Regions from separate parts of the Homo sapiens genome. Here region 2 is linked to region 1. The links come from fine-mapping of genetic effects on gene expression. Tissue or cell type: cerebellar hemisphere. Region 1 holds a variant in brackets; the other region holds the start of a gene. All regions are shown on one strand. Distances are from middle to middle.

The links. PIP is the estimated chance that this variant, and not a neighbour inherited with it, causes the effect.
Region 2: KDF1 starts here. The variant in region 1 is fine-mapped to the expression of KDF1 in cerebellar hemisphere (GTEx, PIP 0.99).

What each region holds. Positions count from the first base shown.
Region 1 is chr1:26,833,666-26,836,417 of GRCh38, reverse strand. All of the region lies in intron 2 of ZDHHC18 (zDHHC palmitoyltransferase 18), which reads right to left. Among named protein-coding and RNA genes, the nearest start is that of ZDHHC18, 8.4 kb to the right of the region's middle. RefSeq lists an enhancer at 2,590-2,689. The variant G/A (reference allele first, on the strand shown) is at 1,239.
Region 2 is chr1:26,959,118-26,961,726 of GRCh38, reverse strand. KDF1 (keratinocyte differentiation factor 1) reads left to right here and starts at 1,259. Exons shown (of 4, transcript NM_152365.3): 1 at 1,259-1,377. RefSeq lists a silencer at 1-269 and an enhancer at 1,139-1,821.

The DNA of each region.
Region 1 (2,752 bases):
AATTTGGGATCTTGGAGAGATAACTACAATTGAAGGGAAAGGCCCAGTCAGGGCCTGTTCTGCAGAGCCCTGAGCCAGTTCAGGTGGAACACGAGGCAGGTCTGTCCAGGGGAAGTGGGCAGAGACGTCCTGGAGACAAAGGAGATGGGGTCTGGGAGCTGGTGTATGGCAGTGGAGAGAGACGCAGCCTCTGTGTCCGTCATGTGAACTGTAACAGGGTCTAAGTGAGCATCTGTCACTTGGATTTGGATGTCTCTATCACCTCCCATCAGACCAGGAGCTTCTGGGAGCAATATTGCTCTTCCCAACTGCCTAGAGCCTGCAGGGTGAGCCAGCTGCACAGCCCACCAGCCGGCAAGACAGGATCTCAGATGAGGGTGACCGAGTGCCCTGATTTTCCTGGGATTGAGTGGTTTCCTAAGACAGGAGACTTTCCAGGTGGTCCTGGGTAAACTGGGAGGAGCTGGTCACTCTACCTCAGACTGTCCCCACAGGGCAGGAGCCCTGGGCCAGACCTGTTGGGCTGGAGTTGCTGGGCTGGGGTGCCAAAGGGAAAAGCCCACACTGTCTACATGAGCCTAGGACCAGGTAATCAGTTCATGCTCACATGAACAGCACCACCTGCCTCAGAGACAGCTCCCAACCTTCTGGAAAAGGTTCAGTGATCTTAGTCCTGATCATTTTCGGGGAAATATGTTTTTGGTTTTTTTTGTTTTTTGAGACGGAGTCTTGCTCTGTCACCAGGCTGGAGTGCAATGGCGCAACCTTGGCTCACTGCAACCTCCGACTCCCTGGTTCAAGCGATTATTCTGCCTCAGCCTCCTGAGTAGCTGGGATTACAGGCACACGCCACCATGCCCAGCTAATTTTTGTATTTTTACTAGAGACAGGGTTTCACCATGTTGGCCAGGATGGTCTCAATCTCCTGACCTTGTGATCCGCCCGCCTCGGCCTCCCAAAGTGCTGGGATTACAGGCGTGAGCCACTGTGCCAGCCCTGGGAAATATGTTTTACTTTAATTAGTTAGAAGTCTCCTGGTCACACCCAAAAATTTGGCTTCTATTCAAGTTTGAGAATTCAAAGGCCTCCAAAATGCCACTTTTGCACTTTGCACCTGTTCGCCAAGAAAAGTCTTAGGGACATTCAGCGCCCTACAAGATTGATTCCACCCCATCCTTCCAACTGGAATATCTCTAATATCCCTAACTATCTGAAGTGCTCCTCATATTCTAGCCAAC[G/A]TGGCCTGCTCAGTGGCCCGTTCCCATCCCTCCTCCTTCCCTCTGCCACTCTCTCTTCCCTCAGCTTTGTCTGCCTGAAGGGCTGCCTCCGCACAGCTCCTGTGCTTGAATTCCACCCAAACTTAAAGACTTAGCTCAAGCATCACTTCTCCAGGAAGCTTCTCCAGTCCCCCAGGCAGAAGATGCTCCTGACTCCTCTGACCCTCTTCTAAAGCCTGATCTCACTGGCAGTGGCTGGTCAGGGCTCCCACCTGGGGCCAACTTGTCTGGAACCCATGAGAGTAAGCTCCTATCAGATTCATTGTTGGCCCCCACCTGCCTTCACTCTGCTGTCAGGGGTCAGCATATAGAATTAACACACAAATGAACAAACCCATGATGCCCAACTGGGAGATGTCCTGACTGTTTCCTCACCTGTCACCCTGACAGAGCAAGGAGGGCCTTCACAGAAGCTCACCTATTCTTCAGTCATTCATTTACTCATTTAGCCAACGTCACTGAGCCTTCTACATGGCGACAAGGTGAACAAGATGCTGGAATTCCATGCCCTCACAGGCCAGCAGAAAGGATGATTTTGTAATGACCACCGTTGCAGCACAGGTTCAGAGAAGGAAGGAGAAGGTGCTCTGGGAATGTGCAATGGAAGGCCTGGCCCAACTGGGGTCAAGAAGGCTTCCCAGAGCACAGGAAACAAGTGGAGAAGAGGATGAAGGAGATGTGTCCCTGCTGCCATCTCAGAAGAGAAAGCAAGGGGTTTGGGAGTGAAAGGCACACACTCTGTCTCTGCTTCTTTATCCTGGCCCTGTGATCACCTGCCTCCGTTTCTCCATCAGTACAATTGGTTAACAGGGTCGCCCTCACTGGGCTGTTGTGAAGATTTGTGGGGATAATAGATGGAAAGCACTCAGCACACGGCCAAGCTCTTTCCAAGAAGGGGATTACTGCTGTCACTGTGATCCACGCAGCTCACAGGAGGCCGAGGATTCCAGGCAGCCAGACCTCTGGGTCCGGCTGAGCTGGACAATAATCCTGCCTCATGATTAGCCCTGACCAGAAGGGGAGGAAGAACGGGGCACAGCTGGGCCTCCCCAGCTGCCAGGTGGGCCAGCCCAGGTCAGACCGTGGGATCCTGAAGGAGTGGCCAGGGACCCAGAGTTTGAAGGGGTAGGACGCTGGATGTAGGTGAGAGGAGGTGGCCCTCGCAGGCGTGGCTGAGGATGGGGCTGGGCAGAGGAATGAGACAAAGAGCAGACAGAGCCCAGAGAACATCCTCTCCAGCTGCTCGCCCTCCCTCCCTCCCTGCTGCACAGAGTATTAGTGAAATGATTTCTAGCGATGGATGCAGCAGGGCTCTGACATTTACAGGCCACTAGATGTCTTCAGGGCCAGCTGGGTGTTTAAAAGCCTGTGTGAACACCATGCTGTTAGGGGAAGGAGCTAACCACGGACCGGAAACCCCCGAGGTGTGCAAGTAGCCACGTCACTTCTCAGCAGGAAGAGCTGGGGTGCAGCAA
Region 2 (2,609 bases), 130 kb before region 1:
TGCCAACTGCCTGAGCAAACAATGTCCCCTCTCTAAGCTTCAGTTTCCTCTTACTGTAAAATGGATATGATAATACCTGACCCACTTCACAGATTAACGGCTTCGGCATGCATGGCTCCTGGAGATGCTCCCTAAAAGTCACTTGTTTGTTTGTTTGTTTTGTTTATTTGAGACAGAGTCTCGCTCTGTCGCCCAGGCTGGAGTGCAATGGCGCGATCTCGGCTCACTGCAACCTCTGCCTGCTGGGTTCAAGCCATTCTCCTGCCTCAGCCTCCCGAGTAGCTGGGATTACAGGCACTTGCTACCATGCTAGGCTAATTTTTTGTATTTTTAGTAGAGACTGGGTTTCACTATGTTGGCCAGGCTGGTCTCAAACTCCCACCTCGCGATCCTCCCGCCTCGGCCTCCCAAAGTGCTGGGATTACAGGCATGAGCCACTGCGCCCGGCCAAGTCACTTGTTTATTAATGCTATTGTTAAGTTATTGAGTTGTTATTAATATTAAGGGGAACAGTAACCCAGAATAGTCTGAGCCTTGCCTTATTGACATTCAATGGTGTTGCCTCTTGCAGAGACCTTTTTTGGATGTAGTGACCATGGCCCATTTTGGCCACCACTTCTGATCCTGGATGTATCTTTCAGAGCTGCATATCCGGTCCCCCTCCTCTACCCTACTCGGGGCCTCAGAGCTGAGGTTCCTGTCTTTACCTGCAGATTTCTCTGAACAAAAGAAAAGGTAAACTGATCAGCGGCCCAGGCTCCCAGTTCTGCCTCAGGGCAAAGGGAGAAATTGGGGCCCAGGGCCTCATTCAGTGGAAAATATTTGTTGAACACCTAGTATGTGCCAGGACCTGTGCTGAGCACCAGGAACACAGGGGAACAAGACCAAACCCTGCAAGGTAGGAGGCTAAAGGAGGAGACAGAAGACAACAAAACGACAGTGTGCTGAGTACAGGGACTGTTCTAACCAACAGAAAAACAGACAGGATCAGGGAAAGCTTCCCAGAAGAGAGCTTCCCTTTGAGTTGGAGCTTTACGGCCGGGCAGAAGTTCCACAGGTGCTCAGAGACTGACAGGACCACCAGCCTGTTGAACAGAAGAGGAGACTGAGCCCCAGCGCCTCTCGACCCCTCCCCGCCACACCTCACCTACCCGGACTAGGCTGAACGGGCCGAGCACTCGAGCGGGGACGCGCAGCTCTGCAGAGCCCCGGGGCGGGGCCTCGGTCCAGGTGCGCGGTAGCGCTTCGCGGAGGCAGGAAGTGTGTCCCTAGCGGCGGCCCGTGCAGCGCTCCCGCGAGACGCTCACCTGCGCCCCAGGTGAGCGGCGAGGGGGCGGGGGAGGGGCTGAGCCGGAGGCGGCTCACCTGGCGGGACAGGTAAGCCCGGCGCGGGCCCAGGGGGGCGCAAGCCAGGGCGGCGCCGGTGTCGGGAGCCCCCCGAAGCTGAGCCCGGACAGGAGAGGGTCCCGGGCCCGGTTCCTCGGGGGCCACCCTCCTACTTCCGGGGTGCGCGGGCCGGGCTGGGGAGCGGCCTGAGCGGGCGCCCGGGCTGGGCGCGCAGAATGGGGTGAGGGGCCGCGTTCGCCCTTAGGGCTGCACTGGCTGGGTGCGGGGGCCGCACTCACCGGGGGGCAGCGTCGGGATGGGACAAACGCTGGTGCTCACCCCGAGGAACAGCGTCGGGACGGGAGGGAGGCTGGGTCCGCCCGCGGGGTAGGGCCCTTGCAGCTGGAGAGGGTAGTGCTCGCCCCGAGGGCAGAGTTGGTGTAGGGGCTGTGGTAGCCCGGGGGACAGTGCCAGGATCTGGTTCTTCCTTGTCCCCAGGACTAGCTGCCCGCGGATATGGGACTCTCGGGCTGCACCTTTGGGGCAGGAGGCCGAGGGTGCACTGAGCCGACGGCTGTTTCTCGAGCAGGACTGGGGTGGTCCTCCCCGGCCGGGTGTCCGAGGCTTGGCACTGGGCTGGGGGCAGAGGCTGGTGCGGCCGGGCCTGTCCTGGGGACCCTCGGAGGAGGGGACGGTACATAGACCCTTGAGTGTGTGTGTGTGTTCGCGGGACTAAGGGGGAAGAGGAAAGCATCAACGAGAAATCCAGGGAGGGCGGGCCGGGACCCTCTGACCCCCGGGAACATCCTTGCGGTGCCTTAGATCGCCTAGTGACCTAGCCCCTCCCATGGGCAAGGCCACTGCGGGAAGCCCCCTGCACTCAATATTTCATTTAAATCTCACGGGATTGGCGGGGCATGAAGATACTAGTCTCTCCTTATTTAAAGATGAGGAAAGTGAGGTTAAGAATCTTGCCTCAAGCCACAATAGGGACAGGGAGTCTCCCCTCACTAAACCAAGTGACCAGGTTCCTAGGATTGGGCGGGGTGGTGGCGGGGCGGTGGCAGCAGGGTCGGGGAGATACAGCCTGGAAGAAACTGCCTGAGTTTGACTTCAGGAGGGTTCAATGGCTGGAGGGAAGTGGGGAACTGAGGCAGGCATTGTCCTTATCCCAGGTCTTCTCTTCTCATCCCACCACCGCTGGAGATGTGTGGCACACACAAAGTACGCAGGCTTCAGAGCCTGGCGGGCCACAGTGCAAATCTTACTCCAGCCCTCTCTTG